3 separate regions of the Homo sapiens genome follow, and regions 1 and 3 are each linked to region 2. Evidence: fine-mapped expression QTL. A gene starts in region 2. Each other region holds a variant in brackets. All regions are shown on one strand. Distances are from middle to middle.

What was found.
Region 1: its variant is fine-mapped to the expression of DRC9 in visceral fat (GTEx, PIP 0.91).
Region 3: its variant is fine-mapped to the expression of DRC9 in whole blood (TOPMed, PIP above 0.99). The same link has a PIP of 0.9 or more in esophagus mucosa and spleen.

Annotation. Positions count from the first base shown.
Region 1 is chr3:197,871,749-197,878,944 of GRCh38, reverse strand. LRCH3 (leucine rich repeats and calponin homology domain containing 3) reads right to left here. Exons shown (of 21, transcript NM_001365715.1): 20 at 3,170-3,247. Among named protein-coding and RNA genes, the nearest start is that of RPL35A, 75 kb to the left of the region's middle. The variant A/G (reference allele first, on the strand shown) is at 3,870.
Region 2 is chr3:197,957,286-197,964,135 of GRCh38, reverse strand. DRC9 (dynein regulatory complex subunit 9) reads left to right here and starts at 4,145. Exons shown (of 12, transcript NM_032263.5): 1 at 4,145-4,291; 2 at 4,417-4,607. It overlaps LMLN (leishmanolysin like peptidase), which reads right to left and starts at 3,919. Exons shown (of 17, transcript NM_001136049.3): 1 at 3,696-3,919. The coding sequence starts at 3,890. RefSeq lists a silencer at 3,861-4,090 and an enhancer at 4,642-5,142.
Region 3 is chr3:197,909,034-197,916,229 of GRCh38, reverse strand. DRC9 (dynein regulatory complex subunit 9) reads left to right here. Exons shown (of 12, transcript NM_032263.5): 8 at 2,188-2,349; 9 at 3,481-3,555. LOC124906330 (a long non-coding RNA gene) reads right to left here. Exons shown (of 2, transcript XR_007096246.1): 2 at 5,899-7,196. Among named protein-coding and RNA genes, the nearest start is that of RPL35A, 38 kb to the left of the region's middle. RefSeq lists enhancers at 2,385-3,016, 2,400-3,599. The variant G/C (reference allele first, on the strand shown) is at 3,274.

The sequences.
Region 1 (7,196 bases), 85 kb after region 2:
ATAGAATCTGACAAAAATATTTGTAATATTGTTTTCTGTTTTACATTTTCAAAAGTGGTCATTATTACATTCCCAATGTTCAAGTCACACAGAGCAAAGTGGGGATGTTTAAGTAAAGGCCAGAATGACCTGGAGACCAGGAGAAAAAGGAAGACGAGGAGGTAGAAGTTTCTTCTCTTCCTCTGGCAGAGGGACCTCAGAAGGCTAGTTTGAACCTACGAGTTTGTGCGTTTATTCATTTTCTTTCACTTTGTTCTAGACAGATGACTAATTTTTCAGCAGAAGTAGCAGCTTGCTAGGAAGCCGTGTAAAACTGGCAGTGGTTGTGGTGGGGACGTGGGTGGGAGGTGGAAGGGGAGAAGGAAGGGGCAGCCTATGGGAACGTCCATTTCCTCTTTCTGGTGACGGAGAAGGAGGGAGGATGCATCAAAACCTCAGCCTAACCACTCTGGAAAAAGACCCAGTCTTTTAAAACTGTATTTTTTTTTTCTTCGTACTTGCCTTCCAACAGCACAGCTCTGGTAGGAACAGGGGCAGGCTGGCCCATAACAAACATGGTCAACCACTGCATGCAAATACCAACTTAAATGTGTATTTTAAGGCACACTGTTTTGTACTTTGTTGGCTGATGGTGGGAACATCCTGAAATAATTCCAAGGTACGGACTTTAAATCTCAGAGACCCTCAGAGGATGCTTCCGAAAGCCCCGCGGACAGGCTTAGACCTTTCAACAGGTTTTGACATCTGGTAAGTCAACATGACTTGCTTGAGTGGGGCCATTTTCAGCACTCTCCTGTCTATTTTGCATTTCCCATTCTCTGCACCAACCCATGCCATACTCTCTTTGTTTAAAGACACTGTGGCAGGGAACTAGAGCAGACACTGGATGTTTGTGTAGCAAGAACCTCTTTAGGAAGCAGAAGGGAAGAACTGGAGGCTAATGTGCACTATTAGAATAAACTTGTTTAAAAGAATGTATGTTATTTCTTCAGAAACCATATTCAGTGCTCTCAAAATATTTAAAAAGGTCTGTTCTAAAAGATGACCCTTTATAAAACAACATAATATAAAAACGAAAATTTTGCTTTCAATTTGTCCATAGGAATCAAAAAGGTGTTTGCTAACTACCACTTTATGTAAATTTCCATTCTTGTATAATTCAGTTAAAAAAAAAACAGCAAAAGAAAAAAGTAAAAAATAAATAATAGAATGATGATCTACTTTCATAAGAGAAAAACAATCCTGGGAATCCTGCTGGCTGACACAGATGATCTGTGGAGCTGGGCGCTCTCTCTTTCACTTTGTAACATGTGATGCTGTGGCCTAGTCAACTCCTGGCTAGTTAGAAAGAGGTGCGGTGAACTGGGTAAAGAGAATCACTGTCATGGGTGCGGTGAGTTGGGTAAAGAGAATCACTGCCATGGGTGCGGTGAGTTGGGTAAAGAGAATCACTGCCATGGGTGCGGTGAGTTGGGTAAAGAGAATCACTGCCATGGGTGCGGTGAGTTGGGTAAAGAGAATCACTGCCATGGGTGCGGTGAACTGGGTAAAGAGAATCACTGCCATGGGTGCGGTGAGTTGGGTAAAGAGAATCACTGCCATGGGTGCGGTGAGTTGGGTAAAGAGAATCACTGCCATGGGTGCGGTGAACTGGGTAAAGAGAATCACTGCCATGGGTGCGGTGAGTTGGGTAAAGAGAATCACTGCCATGGGTGCGGTGAGTTGGGTAAAGAGAATCACTGCCATGGGTGCGGTGAACTGGGTAAAGAGAATCACTGCCATGGGTGCGGTGAGTTGGGTAAAGAGAATCACTGCCATGGGTGCGGTGAGTTGGGTAAAGAGAATCACTGCCATGGGTGCGGTGAGTTGGGTAAAGAGAATCACTGCCATGGGTGCGGTGAGTTGGGTAAAGAGAATCACTGCCATGGGTGCGGTGAGTTGGGTAAAGAGAATCACTGCCATGGGTGCGGTGAGTTGGGTAAAGAGAATCACTGCCATGGGTGCGGTGAGTTGGGTAAAGAGAATCACTGCCATGGGTGCGGTGAGTTGGGTAAAGAGAATCACTGTCATGGGTGCGGTGAGTTGGGTAAAGAGAATCACTGCCATGGGTGCGGTGAGTTGGGTAAAGAGAATCACTGTCATGGAAGCTACAGGAACAGGAACCAAACTCTGAGAGCAATGGTGGAGCTGTTGATGAGCCCCAGGGCCACCCCTGAGTTACTGATACCTAATTAGAAGGTGATAGAGAAGAATCATGTTTTCCTCCTTGCAGGCTATAGACAAAATATGTTAACAAGACTTGTAATGGTCGTGGTTAATGAAAAAGTATCACATGGCACCAAGTCATTTATTTCTTTAAATTTGTCTTTATACCACATAATATTCCTTAATAGTATAATACTTAGTTGGTTTAATATAATTGCTTTTTAAAGGGGTTATTGGATAAGACTGTATCAAGTTCATTTCCCTTAATCGCATCTATAAATAAATTTAACTATTTGTAATATTAAAGGGCAATAAAGTTATAACTGAGCTGGAGGCAATAAATCCTCATAGCAGGACAACAGCTTAGAAATGGCCTGTTGCATGCCAGACTCCAAAGAACCAGAGCTTCATGGAAAAACTGATGAAATCCAAATAAAGCCTGTAATTCAGTTAATCGTATTGTTCTCATGTTACTTAGTTTGAATTACTGTCCTATGTTTGTATTAGACGTTAGTTAACATTAGAAGAAATTGACTGAAGTATACAAAAGGAACTCTAGGCTATTTTTTCAACATTTCTGGAAGTCTAAAACATTTTAAAAAGTATCAAAGCAAGTGTTAGAACACTGAAGCCAACTGCAGCATTCTCAATCTGAGATATACTTAGTTTTTGAAGGATATATTTAGTTGTCAAATAGCAAGTGGGAAAGTTTAGGAAAATAGAATAATTATTTCAAATTACTTATACTTATTTCAATCTATATATTTATAATTTCTTTGTGTGGTCCTTGGAAATAATCAAGGAAAACTGTTCAAAAGTACACTGACTCTTGTAACACAAAGTCATGTTAATTATGATCGACTTAGCTCAGAGCTAGTCCTGTAAGATTTTAGAGATTTACATTTCTAAAATTTTAGGACAACCAAGTCTATTTAGGCAACATAAAAAATGATAAATTTATTACCTGAGGTACACCAATTTTTCTGCAAGCTTCTAGGAAATTTTCCACATTTCGCCTGCATTTCGCCATTGTTAATTTAGGCTGAAATGAGGAAAAGAAAATGTGTTACTAGAGAAGTTTTGTTTCTGGGACAGGGTCTCACTGCCACCCAGGCTGGAGTGCAGTGGCGCAAGCCTGGCTCGCTGTATCATTGACCTCCCAGGCTCAGGTGATCCTCCCACCTCAGCCTCCCAAGTAGCTGGGACTATAGTTGCATGCCATCACACCTGGGCAATTTTTGTAGAGACAGGGTTCGCCACGTTGCCCAGGCTGGTCTTGAATTCCTGAGTTCAAGCAATCTGCCTGCCTCAGCCTCCCAAAGTGCTGGGATCAGAGGCATCAGCTAAATGCCCAGCCTACTAGCAACATTAAAAAATATTTGCTAACTTTAGAAATACTCCTGGCAATCGCTTCATAACTCTCAATGCTGTAGACTAGGGGGTCAGCGAACTTTTTTTTAAAGGATCAGATAATAAATGTTAGTTCTGAGGGCCATAAGAACTGTTGCAATGCCAGGTGCGGTGGCTCACGCCATAATCCCAGCACTTTGGGAGGCTGAGGTGGGCGGATCACCTCAGGTCGGGAGTTCGAGACCAGCCTGACGAACATGGAGAAACCCCGTCTCTACTAATAATACAAAAATTAGCCAGGTGTGGTGGCGGGC[A/G]CCTGTAATCCCAGCTACTCGGGAGGCTGAGGCACGAGAATCACTTGAACCCGGGAACCCGGGAGGCAGAGGTTGTGGGGAGCTGAGATCGCACCATTGCACTCCTGCCTGGGCAACAAGAACAAAGCTCCATTTCAAAAAAAAAAAAAGAACTGTTGCAACCACTCGAGTCTGCCAGGAGCTTGAAAGCAACTATAGACAATATGCAAACAAGAAAGTGTGACTGGGTTCCAGTGAAACTTGATTTACAAGAAGAAGTGCTGGCCTGTGGGCAGTACTTTGTCACCCCACACTTGAGACATTGGCTTTGATTTTGGAAGGCAAGTACTAAATAGAAAAACTTTGAACGAATAGTTACAAACTTTTTTTTTCCATTTTAAAACAGTGTAACACTAAGGCAGCAGTCCTCAACCTTTTTGGCACCAGGGACTGGTTTCACAGAAGACAATTTTTCCATGGACAGGGCTGGAGCTGGGGGGGATGGTTTCAGGCTGATTCAGGCACATTACATTTATTGTGTATTTTATTTCTATTATTACATTGTAATATATAATGAAATAATCATACATAATGAAATCTACCGTAATGTAGAGTCAGTGGGAGCCCTGAGCTTGTTTACCTGCAACTAGACAGTCCCATCTGGGGATGATGGGAGACACTGACAGATCATCAGGCATTAGATTCTCATAAGGAGCCCGTGGCCTAGATCCCTTCCTCGCATGCGCAGTTCACACCAGCGTTCATGCTCCTCTGAGGATCTAATACTGTTGCTGATCTGACAGGAGGCAGAGCTCGGGTGGTGATGTGAGTAATGGGGAGTGGCTGTAAATACAGATGAAGCTTTGCTCACTGGCCTGTTCACCTCCTGCTGTGCAGCCCAGTTCCTAACAGGCCACAGACTGGTACCCATTTGTGGCCCAGGGGTTGGGGACCCCTGCACTAAAGAAAACTTGGAGGAACAGCCAAAAAAATTAATTACCCATAGTTCATCATTTAAATGTAACTACAACACTTGATTCATTTCCTTTCAGTCTTTTTTTTTTTTTTTTTTCTTTTGAGACAGAGTCTCACTCTGTCGCCAGGCTGGAGTGTGGTGGTGCTATCTTGGCTCACTGCAACCTCCGTCTCTTGGACTCAAGTGATTCTCCTGCTTCTGCCTCCCAAGTAGCTGGGACTACAGGTGTGCACCACCATGCACAGCTAATTTTTGTATTTTTAGTAGAGATGGGGTTTCATCATGTTGGCCAGGATGGTCTCGAACTCCTGACCTCGTGATCTGCCCACCTGGGCCTCCCAAAGTGCTGGGATTACAGGCAAGAGCCACTGTGCCTGGCCCTTTCTTTCTTTTTTAGGGTCAGGGTCTCGCTCTGTTGCCCAGGTTGTTGTGCAGTGGCATGATCGTGGCTCACTGCAGCCTCAAACTCCTGGGCCCAAGTGATCCTCCCGCCACAGCTTCCTGAGTAGCAGGTGCACGCCTAATTTTTTTAAGTATTTTTGTAGAGATGGGATCTCACTATATTGCCCAGGCTGGTCTTAAACTCCCAGCCACAGGTGATCCTCCTGCTTGTCTCCTTCTCAGCTTCAGCTTGATCCCACAGGGAGCTCACAAGTGTGAACCACACGACACTCCCTCCTTGAGGTAGGAGGGCTCAGCCCCATGCTTGTCCGTCACTGGCTATGGGCTTAAGGGAAGAGCAAGGTGGCCTAGGACAGGTCCCTGAAACACACTGGGGGAAAAGTATATTACATCTGTAAGTTTTGGATGGTGTAGTTAAAATACACATACAAATATAGATACATAAAGCAAGTGCGGCAAAATGCAAGAAACGTCAGATCTAGGTGCAGACTTTAATAGTGTTCGTTGTAGGATTCTTTCCACTTTTCTGAAGGTTGAAATTTTTCATGATAAAAATGTGAGGAAAACAGAGGAGGGGTGTGTCAACCCAAAGCCTGTTCTTTTGTGGACTGCCATCCTGAAACTGATGCCCAGACCTGACCAGCAGTGCAAAGAGAACCTGCCAGTTATCCTGAATGCATTTTCTCCCTCATCTTCCACCTGAGGTCGGTCACAGATCATGTCAGTTTTACCTTTGAACCATCTTCCCTCTCACTGCCCAGTTAGTCCAGGCTTTAGTCCCGGCTTGTTATCTTCCTGGCCTGGACTAATACAACAGCCTTTTAATTGGGCATCTTTCTTTTCTTTTCCCTTTTTTTCTTTTGAGACAGAGTCTCGCTCTGTCTTGCCCAGGCTGGAGTGCAGTGGTGCGATCTCAGCTCACTGCAAGCTCCGCCTCCTGGGTTCAAGTGATTCTCCTGGCTCAGCCTCCCAAGTAGCTGGGATTACAGATGTATGAACCACTCCTGGCTAATTTTGTATTTTTAGTAGAGTTGGGGTTTCACCATGTTGGCCAGGCTGGTCTCGAACTCCTGACCTCAGGTGATCCACCAGCCTCGGGCTCCCAAAACGCTGGGATTATAGGCGTAAGCCAGTGCACCCAGTCTCTTTTCCTTTTTCTTTTAAGAAACAAGATCACCCAAGCTGGTCTCAAACTCCTGGGCTCATAGGATCCTCATGCCTCAGGCTCCCAAGTAGCTGGGACTACAGGCACAAGCCACTGAGCCTGGCTTGGGCATCTTTGTAGTGTACCACCTTTAATTTTTCCATTTCTCACTTAGCACCTAGATTCATCATTCCTTTTTTTTTTTTTTTTTTTTCTTTGAGACAGGGTCTTGCTCTCTCACCTAGGCTGGAGTGCACTGGCACAATCACGGCTCACTGCAGCCTCGAACTCCTGGGCTCAAGTGATCCTCCCACATCAGCCTCCTGAGTAGCTGGGACTATAGGCACATGCCACCATACCCAGCTGATTTTTGTATTTTTGGTAGAGACGGGGTTTTGCCATATTGTCCTGGCTGGTCTCAAACTCCTGGGCTCAAGCAATCGTCTGCCTCGGCCTCCCAAATTGCAAAGATTATAAGCATGAGCCACCGCGCCCAGCCTAGATTCGTCATTCTAAACTGCAGTTAGAATCATGGTATTCCCTCTTTAATTCAGTGTATCCTCATTGTCTGTACTAGGGTAAACGTCCTTCACACGGTTCATAAGGCCTTTGTACCACGGCCCCAGCTCACGTCTCTAGCCTTACCCCTTACCATTTGTATTACAACCCTGTGCACGATCCATTCTGAACAATTTACCAATTCCTTAAGTAAAAGCCAAACTTTCCTTAGCTTCTGAATCTAGAAATCCTATGCCTGGAAGGCCCCCTCCCCTCTCTGTACTGCTGGAAAATTCCTTCTTAAACTTCAAGAATTAGTTCAAATTTT
Region 2 (6,850 bases):
TGACCAAGTAAGGTTTATCCCAAAAAAGCAACGTTGATTTACTATTGGAAAATGCAATGTAATCTACCACATAACAGTTCATAAAGTGAGAAACTATATGATTATCTCAATAATTACCAGAAAAAACAAAAAGCATTTGACAAAATTTGTCCCCATTCAGGATAAAAACCCTCGGGAAACCAGAAACCAAAGGGAGCTTTCTCAATCTGATAAAGGGAACTACAAAAAAATGTAAAGTTAACATCATACTTAATGGTCAGAGACTGGTCCTAAGATCAGGAACAAATGGCAAGGAGGCGTGCTATCTCACTTTTGCTCAGCCTGGAACTGCCTGTCCTCACCAGAGCAATAAGGGGGAAAAAATACATAAATGATACAAAACTACAACAACAAAAATTGTTCCTATTTATAGTTAATACATTGCTAACATCAAAAATTGTAAGGGAGGAAACCCTAGTAGAATAAATAAGTTTAGCTAGGTCTCAGAAGACAAGGTTAATATACAAAAATTATTTCTACCTACTAGCAGTGTATTTTTACATACTAGCAGCAAACAACTGGAAAACTTTAACCATAATTCCACTGACAATGGCATCAAAAAATAAAAGACTTAGGAAAACATTTAACAAAAAACATGCAAGATCTGGCTGGGCACGGCGGCTCATGCCTGTAATCCTGGCACTTTGGGAGGTCGAGGCAGGAGGATCGCCTAAGGCCAGGAGTTCAAAACCCACCTGGACTCTGTCTCAACAAAAAATAAAAAATTAGCCAAGTGTAGTGGCGCATACTTGGGAGTCCCAGCTACTTGGGAGATTAAGGCAGAAGGATCATTTGAGCCCAGGAGTTCAAGCCTGCTGTGAGCTATGATTCTGCCACTGCACTCCAGCCTGAGTGACAGAGCAAGACTGTCTCAAAACAAAACAAAAAAAAAAAAGAGAGAGAAAAGAAAACAGAAGAAAAAATGCAAGATCTATACATTTTTGCTGAGAAAAATTATGCATCACCTCAATAAATGGAGAAACATACATTATGTTCATGGATTGAAAGACTTGATACTGTTAGATGTCAATTATCTCCAAATCATCTATAGAGTAAATGCAATCCCAATCATAAACCCATCAGGCTTTTTTGAAGAAACTGAGAAGCTGACTCTAAAATTTATATGGATCTGTCTTTGAGCCTCCCCCTGCCAAAAAATAAATAAATTTATATGGAAATATAAAAGCCTTAAAATAGCCAAAATCATTTTGAAAAGGAAGAACAAAGCAGGAATGCTTACAATAACAATACTGTCTGATTTCAATATTTATTACAGAGGTACATAATCCAGGCAACTGAATACCCATATGGGGCAAAAAAAAAAAAAAAGGATATTGATCCCCTATCTCACATCATATATAAAAATTAATTTCAGATGAATCATAATCCTAAAAGTGAAGGCTTCTAGAACACAGGAGAATATTTTTATGACCTAGGGGGTATTTAAAGATTTCTTAGAAAGGACATCTGTTGGTGAGGATATGCAGCAACCATAACTAATATTTTGTTGATGGGGGTGTAAAATGGTAGAGTATTTTGGAGAAAGGGTTAGTATTTTTTATAAACATTCACCTACCCTTGACCCAGTAATTTCACCCCTAGGTATTTATCCAAGAACAATGAAAACATATATCCACAAAAATTACTGTACAAGAATATTGACAGCAGCTTTATTTATAATAGCTAAAATCTGGAAGAAACCAAAATACCCATCTTTGAACAAGATAACGGAAAAACAAATTGTGATATAAGTATTCAATGGAATACTCAGCAATTCAAAGGAATAAATTACTATCACATACAACACGAATCTCACAGACATAATGCTGAGCAGATGCCAAATACAGAGGAGTACATACCATATAATTCCATTCAATACACGAAGCTCTAGAATTGGCCAAACTAATCTAGTATTTAAAAAAAAAACAATTAGAAAACTAGTTGCCTGGGGTGGGCAGGAGACTGGCACAGGACAGGAGGGAACGTCTGGAGATGTGGGAACGTTCTATGTTGTGATGGGTTGTATGCTTTATGTGGATGTGCATGGATACATTTGTGGCATTTCAATATATGTAAATTTTACCAAAAAACTTCAAAAGAACAGTAACTCAAGTAGGGGGCTGCGGAATGGCTGAAAGTATATGAAACAAGAATGGCGGAACCTTAAAGCTAGGTGTTAAAGCTAGGTGATGGGTCCATGCGGGTTCATTAAATTATTCTGATGTTGTTTGTACCGGCGTAATAAAAGGTAAAAACAAAACTTACAGGCTTTAGTTGAGAACCAGTTAAAAAGTAAAACTGTTTTGTAGCTCCCCAACACCACCAAAACCAAAAAAGTTATGTAATTTCCTGTAGCATTGAACAGAGGTATAGTCATTAGCGTAACTACAGTGAACACTGTAGCTCCTGGCTATACTCCGTGTCCAGGTTAAAACAAGGAGAATAGTGAGGACGACAGGGTATTTATATACTCTATGAGGAACTAGCGAAACGTATTAGGGACCAGGACTCTTTCTCTTATTTTAATCCAAATTAAAAGAGAGAAGTGCAGGGTTTTGTGGGAAATTTTTTTTAAAGAATTCAGCGAAAATGCAGCATGATAAAAGCTGCAAAAAAGCTATAAACTCCGAAGTTAATATTTTGGCTCACTTGGTTATGAAGAGTATGCATGTAACATTTTGGGAAATTACCATAAAAATGAGTGTCTTTAGATTTCTGGGCTGAATTGAACATGTGTAGGTGTATCAGCATGCAGCCCTGCCCCAGGTACTCTCCCTTTCTCAAAGAATATGGATTATCGTGGACCCACCTCTGACCTAAATACTGTGAAGGAATCAAAGTATGAAACACAAACCTTATCCCACGGAACCTTATAATCTAACTGCAAAGGCAAGATACGCCTAAAAAATAAGCCATTATCCCATAGCAGTACTTGGTTAAATGCCAGGAGGGAGTACAGACACGATGTACTTTTTAATGAAAAGAATATTGCGCTGTGGTGGTTTCAGCAGGCTGCCTTGAGGTTAGGGAATTTGAAATGAGACAAAGAATTTAAGCAGAGAGAAAAATGGGATGGGAGGCGGGCAGGCACTTCCAGAGCAGAGGAACCGGGTAAAGCAAACAAAGTGACGACATAACGTGAAAAGAAACCTGAATTTTGTCTCCAGTGAGCCCCCAACGTCCCACCAACGCCTCTATCTGGCTCTCCGTTCAATGTCTTCCCGAAACTTCAGGTCAGCGGTTCCTAAAGTGGTCCCCGGACAAGCATATCTCACCAACCAGCTGGGAACGTAAACTGTCAACTCTGGGGACTCATCCCAGACCTACTGAGTCACTAAGTGGGGGACTGAGGGCGGCAATCCGTGTTGTACCATGTGCGTCGGGTGACTGTGATGCACGCTCAAGTTTGAAAACCACTCCTCGAGGGCTACTGCTAAGCACAACCCTCCGCACAGAAGTGATACTGTTCTGAGCGCCTAACAGCCAACTTGCAGGGTGTAGGGAGCTGAGAGCGGGTCCCAGGCCTGTAAGAGTCAGGCTCTGCCCCAATTTCGCTTTCTCATCCAGGACACCTTCTCCCAGTCACTATCTCCTACGCCTGCTCCTTCTGGGTGACTTTACCCTGAGAGGGCCCGCTCCCGCCCATGTCGCCCTACCTCAGTGTCAGAGGGGACGTGGTGCCGGCAGGGAGGGGAACTGCCCAAGGAGACGGGAGTAGATGTGGCGCTGGCCCGGAGCCCGCCCAACAGGAGTAAAACGCTTCGGACCCACACAGACCCGCTCCAGCGCCACCGGCTCCGGCCCGGGCCTGAGCCCGAGTAACCCACTCCTCCGCCCCATTCGGCCGCCATCTTCGGGCCGAGCGTCGTTACCATGGAGTGCGTGACGCCTCTGCGCCCGCGCCGGCCCCGCCCCTCGCCGCTGGGGGTAGACGGAGGGCCCAGCCGGCGGAAAGGCGCTTTCCGATTGGACAGCGTCACCCGCTAGAAGTTCGCCGCAGAAGATGAGGGCGGCGATCACGTCCATCGCGTCTCGTGGCGCGAAGCCGGCCAATAAATGCTGTTTGGAGGCCCACGTGAGTGGGGCTGTGGGAGGAAGAAAGGCTAGCGGGCGTTGGCCGTATGTGGGTGTCTTGAGGCAGTTTTTCAGTTCTTTCATTTACCAAAGTGACATGCACCTACTAGGTGCCAGGTGTTTAGACGTACATACAACCCTCTGCAAAATCTTTCAGTGTAGTCCTCTGTATGAAAAGGTGAGTGGAATACTTTCATTTACTTATCCTGAGTCACCAACTTTAGGCCCATTACTTAACTAACGCCATTTCCTATAAAAATCTATGATACACCGTTTACTGTTTTACTCAACTCCATCTTTTAGTTTCCAGCCAAGAATTGCCACTGCACCTGAGATAAGGGGGATCCTGGCCATTAAGGAAACCTTGCCTTCGAAACTGAGCCGTGAGGAACTATACAAAATGGGAAATTGGGACAAATCCCAGTGGCTCATGACACTAAGAAGTAAAATTACGAACTCACTGAGCTGGAAGTCATTCAACGGGAATTGAATAGGTAAGCTACTATACTGGGAAATGAAGGAGTAGGAAAGAAGGAAAACCTCAAGTTACAAACTATGGGTGGAGATTCAGCTACGAGGATGGGGTGGTGTTTTAAGTATTACCATTTTACAAGTAAATACTCACTAAATGTGTGTATCATCCCACAACTAGTGGAAGGTGGGATTCCAAACCACATTTGTAACTTAGGAAACGTGCCCTTTCCACTACAATACCACAAATAAATTGCTATTGTGAATAAAGAATGGAACCAGTCATCCTAAGCTCCTGGCTGTAACAATAGTGTTATGCTGAGGAAAGGCTGTTTCTTTTTTTTTTGAGACGGAGTTTCACTCGTCGCCCAGGCTGGAGTGCAGTGACACAATCTCGGCTCAATGCAACCTCTGCCTCCCGGGATCAAGCTATTCCCCTGCCTCAGCCTCCCGAGTAGCCGGGATTACAGGCACCCGCCACCACGCCCGGCCAATTTTTATGTTTTTAGTAGAGACGTAGTTTCACCACGTTGGCCAGGCTGGTCTCAACCTCATGACCTCAGGTGATCCGCCCGCCTCCGCCTCCCAAAGTGTTGGGATTACAGGCGTGAGCCACCGCGCCCAGCCAGGAGGCAAAGCTGTTTCAATGGTGTAGTGGACAAGTTACCAGCCACGCAAGCCCTTTCCTGTAAACCACAGGACTCCTCCTTTGGCAACGGTGACTTGAGTACTTTTGACTTAATTTCCATATGGGAGGAGAAAAACATAAAAACATACATTTATTATTTACAAATGCTGCATCATCTCAGTAAGGAAGAGCATGTATTTGCTTTTGAGTCTCATTTGCCATTGCACATGTAAGTTACTCGAGTTAAAGTCTCAACCGTTTGTTTTCCCCCGCTTTGCTCAGATGCCTACCACTTACCGTGTGTCTGTTCCACTCAGAATACCATCCACTTCTCCATATGCCTAACCCAGACCTGAAATACCCATCTGTCTTCATGGATATGTCCACAGGTTAACATCTTACAGCTTCCTCAAATTCAACTTTAGCTCCTCCCACAAAACCATCTCCTGATTCCCCAACTTTGTAAATGCACCATTATCCATCCAGCCCCCAAAGCCAGAAACATGTTAGAATTCTCCATTTGAGACTGAAAAGCCCACCTAATTTTCCCTTGTTTATGCTGGGATGCCATTGGGATTTGAAATAATCTGAGCTGGTGGCTCATATCTGTAATCCCAGTACTTTAGGAGAACAAGGCAGGGGGATCACTTGAGGCCAGGAATCGAGACCAGCCTGGGACCCCGAAAAAACATTTTAATTGGCTGGACGTGCCTGGCATGCACCAGATTCTCTGGAGGTTGTGGGCAGGGGATTGTCTGAGCCTAGAAGTTCAAAGGTGCAGTGAGCTATGATCACACCACTGCACTACAGGCTGGGCAACAGAAACCCTGTCTCAAATGAGTAAATTTTAAAATTTCCTGTGAATCAAGTTCTTCAGTGACGTTGTATTACACTCAAGAACAATCTTAAGCCTAAGATCCTCAGTTCAGTACAGGAGACCTCTCATGTGGCATTTTAGTTTTCTGGACTTTCCAGTCAGCCACTTGTGTTCCTAAAATCTTCCTGCCATTTCCTCTTTGAGATGCCGCCCTATTTCTTCCTCTACACTTTACGGTTTTATGTTACGCAGCCAGTATACCTACATGCCTCTATCCCTGAATACCCCGAGTACTACTGATCACATCTACTTAACTGGCACAATGAACACAGTAGGTACTTTTAGCTTATGTTGGCCTTTTGGAGTGGGTGTCCAAGATCAGCACTTCCTCGCGCTGACTGCGTAATTCCCAAGTTCAATTTCATTAGCATTCTAATATACAACTTCCAACTTCCGGCCTTGAAGTACTGCTCACTTCTGGTGAATACAGCATCAGTGCACTTTGTTTGCCTTAAAACCACAATCCTGGGAGGCTGAGACAGAATGGCGTGAACCCGGGAGGCGGAGCGTGCAGTGAGCCAAGATTGCGCCACTGCACTCCAGCCTAGACGACAGAGCAAGACTGTCTCAAAAAAAAAAAAAAAAAAACCACCACAATCCTAATAAATGAGCCTGGCAGAGTACTAACACAAGCCCATGTCCACGAAGCACGGGACTCCAACAATGGCAGCTTTGGCTTGCATACCACCATTGGACTGACCAAACCTTTCTTAGAACTGCCAGTGTGACAGAGGGACCTCTGGGGGAGGGCGTCTTGCTTT
Region 3 (7,196 bases), 48 kb after region 2:
AGACCAAGGCAGGAGGATCCCTTGAAGCCAAGAGTTTGAGACCAGCCTGGGCAACAGAGTGAGACCCCCATCTCTAAAAATATTAAAAAGTTAGCCAGGCATGGTGACATGCACCTGTAGTACTAGCTACTTGGGAAGATGGCTTGAGCCCAGGAATTGGAGGTTATAGTGAGCTGTGATCGAGCCACTACACTCCAGCCTGAGTGACAGAGGGAGATCCTGTCTCTAAACAAAAAAATTTTTTTAATACAAAAGAACTAATTCTACCCTACTTACATGGTTAAGACGAAAGGCAATTGGAGGCCAGGCGTGGTGGCTCACGCCTGTAATCCCAGCACTTTGGGAGACCGAGGCAGGTGGATCACCTGAGGTCGGGAGATCAAGACCATCCTGACCAATGTAGAGAAACCCCATCTCTACTAAAAATACAAAATTAGCTGGGTGTGGTGGTGAGCACCTGTAATCCCAGCTACTCAGAAGGCTGAGGCAGGAGGATCACTTGAACCTGGGAGGTGGAGCTTGCAGTAAGCCAAGATCATGCCACTACACTCCAGCCTGGGCAACAAGAGCGAGCCTCCATCTCAAAAAAAATGTAAAAAGAGAAGAAAGGCGGTTGGTATCTAGAGGAGCAGGTCTCGGGTTGAAGCACTTTTGTTGCTAGTCGTGTGCTTGTTTGCTGTGCCGTCAGGTCCCCTCCCTGTGGACTTACTCACACACTGATTCCGCCCAAACAGTTCTTTTCAAACAAATGTTACCTCCCTGACTAAAAGCTTTCCAAGGATTCCCATGACAGTTGGAATAAAATCTGAATTTCTCAGTTGGGTCTCCGGGGTCCTGTGTGGTGCCCTTACCGACCTCCAACCTCATCCTGTCCTCCCCTCAACCCTCACTAGGCTAGAGCCTCCGGAGCTTTCTTTCAGTTCCTGGAATGTATCCAGGTCTTGATTGCTTCAGGATTTGGGCATATACTTATTCTTTTTTTTTTTTTTAGAGTTCCCTTAACCCTATTTTTCTTTTCTTTTTCTTTCCTTTTTTTCTTTTTCTTTTCTTTTTTTTTTTTTTTTTTGAGACAGAATCTCGCTCTATCACCCAGGCTGGACTGCAGTGGCATGATCTCAGCTCACTTCAACCTCCACCTCCCGGGTTCAAGTGATTCTTCTGCCTCAGCCTCCCGAGTAGCTGGGATTACAGGCGCCCGCCACCACTCCCAGCTATTTTTCGTATTTTTAGTAGAGACGGGGTTTCACCATGTTGGCCAGGCTGGTCTCAAACTGCTGACCTCAGCTGGTCGCCATGCCTCAGCCTCCCAAAGTGCTGGGATTACAGGCGTGAGCCCCCGTGCCTGGCCAAGCCTATTTTTCATGTGGTGGGCTTACCTGTCCTTCAGGTATCGAATGAGCCATCGCTTTCCCGAGAGAGTCCTTCTCAGACCTTCCAGAGTCTAATGTACTCCTCCCTTGTTATTTCCTCCCACAGCCTCTCGAGCCTTCCTTTTCTATCATTTTGCACAATTTTTGGAAGTTTACACATGTGTTTGTCTCTTTTTAACCACCTCTCTTCTATTAGACTGTAAGCTCTATGAGGGAAGGGAATATGTCTGTTTAGATCTCCACAATTTTCCTAGCTCAGTGCCTGGTGCTGAATAAATATTTTTCTTAATGACTATTGAGTCCTCACAATTGCCAAGCACTTGGTGACCTGCAAAAAGAAAGCGTTTTCACACGTGTTCTCAAGGAAACCTAATAATCACTCTCTGAGATACTTCAGGCAGGTTGGGTGTTTGTATGTTTGTGTGTTTGTTTTATAGAAAGTAAAAAGTTGGAGATTTGACTTGGCCAAGTTCACACAGCTGGAGGCCTGGGTGGGAAGTCAGTTCTTTTGATCATTTTGACCAGTGTTCTTCCTACCAAAATGAGAAAGCTGTGTGGGACATACGGAGTACAGCAATAATGTGCCTGGGAACTAATCTCACAGCCCTGATGCGCCCTGATTCTTAGAAATGCTGTGTTACTCACTTTCATCTATACACTTCATGATTGTTGGCTAAATTTCCCATTGTGTGACAGCGGAAAAATAGTTCCAGTTCCTTATTGATTTATACGCATAAAAGGGAACCGTAAGCCGCTGACTGAACTGAATGGAGGTAGAATGTATTTTCAATTTAGAAACCTGGTCTTTCCACTACAGAGTCAGAATGAGTATATTGCTAACCTCAAGGACCAACTGCAAGAGATGAAGGCAAAATCCAACTTGGAGAATCGCTACATGAAAACCAATACCGAGCTGCAGATTGCCCAGACCCAGAAAAAGTGTAACAGAACAGAGGAACTCTTGGTGGAAGAGATTGAGGTAATCCCTGGGACATTAGCCAAGAACCCAGGAGATGGCAATTGAGCTGTCACTCCTGATCCCCTCTCAGCTAACAAAGGAGGGAGACAAAGATTTCCCTCCATCTCTATCGGCAACAGCCCCTCCACTTGAGGTTGAAAATAAAAGCCTAAATGAGGATATGCGTGTTCGCAAGCAGAGATTCCAGTGGGCTGTAGCCTCCATCTCCCGCCTCATAATGACTTTGAAAATTGGCTGCACTTTCTCTCCTTGGTCACTTCTTATTTTGGCAAACCAATCACCATTTTTCTGACTAATTATAGGGAGAGGGCAAAACGAGGTGCTTAGTTATGGCAGGATTTTGCTGCTGTTTCTTTCATCTAACCAGTACCTTTCACTCCTCCAGTAAGAAATACAGCATCGAGAGCGCTGAACTTCGTTCAAACCTGAGTTTATAGGATGAGAAGTCACGGTGAAAAATGCCAGGAGGAAGAAAGAAGTGGTAGATCTTCTTTGAGGGGAATGCTAAATGGCACACACGCACGCACGCACACACGCACGCACGCACGCACGCACACACGCAAAGCCAGGCACTAGTCCCAGCTAATCGGAGGTGAGGCAGTGAGGCAGGAGGATCCTTGAGTTTGAAGCCAGCCTGGGCAACTTCAGACTTCAACTAGGGAGACTCCCTTCTCACAAAAAAGAAAAGAAAACAAGAAAGAGCAGCAGGCAGATGGGAAGAGGGAAGCAGGAACAAACGTCCTTGGGCCGTGGAATCTGTGTGTGGGAGGACTCCTCGCTCTGAGACTGACGTGGCTCAAGGCCACGTCAACACTCTTCCTGGCACTCCGGAATCCCCCTTTTTAAGCCCCACAGCCTTGTGCCCTTGGAGCGCCGTTTCTGTCCTTCAGTGGGCACCTCTGTTCAGCTCACGGGATTGTGCTC[G/C]TCTCGTTAGGGACACACGCAGTCCACACAGTGCCGCGCCACGTGGCTCTGCAGTGTTGGTGAACAGGAGTTGCAGGGAACTGAAAGCCCGGGATCCCAGCTGGTAAAGGGAGCCTCAGCTACCGACCGAGCTGCTGCTCTCATCTTGAGAACTTCTGATTCCCAGCCCTGCGGGGAAGACGTACTGGTATCTGATTGTTCTTACAGAAACTCAGGATGAAAACCGAAGAAGAGGCCCGGACTCATACAGAGATTGAAATGTTCCTTAGAAAGGAGCAGCAGGTGGGTCCCCACAGCTTTTCTATGCTTTGACTTTTTTTTTGTACTCTGCTTATACTGAGGAAACAAAAAGAATATTTTGAAGGAAAACCAACCATCATTCTTTCAGCCTAATGAACTTTAGCTCATGTTTTCTTTCAGGGTTATGCATCTGAATAGATATCTTATATAGCTGTAATTTGAGAGAGTGCAGGTAAAATTTTGTTTTCTGCTTTTATCATTGAGCTTACATAAGAAATTTTTCGATTTCTATATTGCTGTATACTCATAATTTTCAAATTATGACTTAATTTATGACTTAAAATTTATTAAGTCAAATTATGACCTACAAATTTATGGGCTGGGCACAGTGGCTCACGCCTGTCATCCCAGCACTTTGGGAGGCCGGGGAGGGTGGATCACCTGAGTTCAGGAGTTTGGGACCAGCCTGACCAATATGGTGAAACCCTGTTTCTATTAAAAAATACAAAAATTAGCCGGGCATGGTGGTGCGCCTGTAATCCCAGCTATTCAGGAGGCTGAGGTGGGAGAATTGCTTGAACCTGGGAGGCAGAGGATGCAGTGAGCTGAGATCACGCCACCGTACTCCAGCCTAGGCAACAGAGCGAGACCCCGTCTCAAAAACAAAAACCAAAAAAAGACATAATTTTTAAATTAATTATTTTTAAATTATGACTATATTTAAAAATTTTTCCCAATAGTATAGTGGCCAATAAATAAAAAAGAAAAATAAATAAAGGCCGGACATGGTGGCTCACGCCTGTAATCCCAGCACTTTGGGAGGCAGAGGCCAGCGGATCACCTGAGGTCAGGAGTTCGAGACCAGCCTGGCCAACATGGAGAAACCCCGTCTCTACTAAAAATACAAAAATTAGCCAGGCATGGTGGCGGGCGCCTGTAATCCCAGCTACTCAGAAGGCTGAGGCAATAGAATCGCTTGAACCCAGGAGGCAGAGGTTACAGTGAGCCGAGATCATGCCACTCACTCCAGCCTGGGCAACAGAGCAAGAATCTGTCTCAAAAAAAAAAAAATTTACTAATCTTTTACACTATAAAAATAACATTCCCAGTTGAGTGAAGATTTTTAAAATTACTCATTGCTTTTCATTTTTTATGTTATTACAGTTTCTTTATAAAATAATTGAAAATTGTGTTTAACGTTCCATTGAATGGTTGTGCCACAGTTTATTTGTTACACTTTTTTTTTATATTTAGGTTGTTTCTAAAGTTTGTTATTATAAATAATGCACTCATTAAAGCTTTGCCCAAAGAACTGTTTTTCTTCATGGCAACTATTTACTAAAAGCCAATCTCAGTCATGAGATTTTTGTTTCAGAGACTAGTATTTTGTGACTTTTAATAAACATTGCTAATACTCTCGAATCTGTGCTGCCGTTAGCAGTGTTGCAGGCAGTAATTTCAAGGTCTCTTCAATATTAGTAGCCATTTTCAATATTTTTCAAAGTCTGCTAATTTAATGAGTTGTTTTATTTTTTATTTTTGCTTATTAACAGGTGAACATAACATTTTTCCACATGTTTACTCAATTTATTTCTTCTTGTGTGAAATATATATGACACGGTGGTTTTAAGAGCATTTTCAATACTAATAACCAAGCTGGGTCTATAATATATCTAAGGTTAGAATTATGTCTAAGTCTACCTGGAGTCTTTCTTTCTTTTTTTTTTTTTTTTTGTTTTGTTTTTGAGATGCAGTCTTGCTTTACTGCCCAGGCTGGAGTGCAGTGGCGTGATCTTGGCTCACTGCAACCTCGGCCTCCTGGGCTCAAGCGATTCGCCTGCCTCAGCCTCCTGAGTAGCTGGGATTACAGGCGCACGTCCAGCTAATTTTTGTATTTTTAGTAGAGATGGGGTTTCACTGTGTTGACCAGGCTGGTCTAGAACTCCTGACCTCAGGTAATCCACCTGCCTCGGCCTCCCAAAGTGCTGGGATTACAGGCGTGAGCCACCGTGCCCAGCCCCAGCTGGAGTCTTTCAAAATAACCCTATTGGATGAATAAAGAGAAAATTTTCCAGCTTAGTTATAATACAGCTTGCCTTTGGAAAAAGCTAATGAGTTTTCAGTCAAGGATTCCAAATGTGTGGTTAAAGAGGAGAATTTGTAGATGCTCTCTTGCAGGTCTTTACTGAAAAAAATACCTGGTAGGCTATTAGAATTAGGGTTCTGTAGCCCTGCACTTTAAGAATTATGTATCATGTTACCTGTTTCAAGTGTGAGATACCTGGCAGGTGTTGGATATTTATCAGTGAGTTGGTAGATAAATGGATCACGAAGGGATGACGCCAGAGTTTCCCAGATCTTCAGCCCAATAACACAAGCAATACATAAGTATATATTTTTTTATTTTTTATTTTTTAGGGACAGGGTCTCTCTCTGTTTCCCAGGCTTCAGTGCAGTGGTGCCACCATAGCTCACTGCAGCCTCAAACTCCTGGGCCCAAGTGATCCTCCCACCTCAGCCTCCTGAGTAGCTGGGACTACAGGTGTGCACCACCACGTCCAGCTACAATTTCAGACAGAAATACATAGGTTAAAGAAAGTGAAAGCCCTCTTAAATTACTCCCCTTTCTGAAGGGAAGTTTCTTCCACATGTATTTCTTTTCATATACATACTTATACCTAAAAACATACCTATTCTCAGTGGTGGTTTTTTGTTTTGTTTTGTTTTTGAGAGGAGTCTTGCTCTGTTGCCCAGGCTGGAGTGCAATGGCGCGATCTCGGCTCACTGCAACCTCTGCCTCCAGGTTCAAGTGATTCTCCTGCCAGCCTCCCGAGTAGCTGGGATTACATGCACCTGCCACCACACCTGGCTAATTTTTGTATTTTTGGTAGAGATGGGGTTTCACCATGTTGGTCAGGCTGGTCTTGAACTCCTGCCCTCAAGTGATCTGCTGGCCTCAGCCTCCCAAAGTGCTGGGATTACAGGCATGAGCCACTGCACCCGGCCTAGTATTTGTTTCTTAAGTAAATTGGATCATGCTATATATAGTGTTCCAGAGCCTGTTGTTTTCTTCTTACATTTACTTTGTTTTTAATGTTTTCTGTAGCAGTACAGCTGATTGATAGAATATATCTCACACTCAGAATATACTGAAATTTAGTGAACCATTCTGTCAGTAGATTTAGGTTGTTTCCAGGTTTTTCTGTGATAACATTGCGAAACCTTCTTGGTTCTGTCTCTAAGTGTATGGTATGTGGAAAGGTATTTCTTTTGTGTATTGCTGTGGATTTGTTAAACCCTCTAATGGTTTTTCAGTGGATTCATTTGGATTTCCTAGGTGGAAAATCTTACTGCATGCAAATAACAATTTTATATTATCCTTTTTATTATTTATATGTCTGTTTTCATTTCATGGCTTGTTGTCTAGCTAGAAAGTCCAGTGTACTTGTTGGTTGTAGTAGTGACAATGGGGAATCCTTTTTCTATTATTGGTTGTTAATACAACACCACTGTTCTGGTGTTTTAGTCAGGATTACACATGAGTTTGTCATAGTCATGCCAAGTTACTGATATGCAAGTTAGAGCACTCACAGGGAAAGAACAGGACCCTGAAACTTGGAATGAGAACACCTGCTCAGATTCGGATGAAACTGGCAAATCACTTTAAAGCTCCCTTGGCAGCG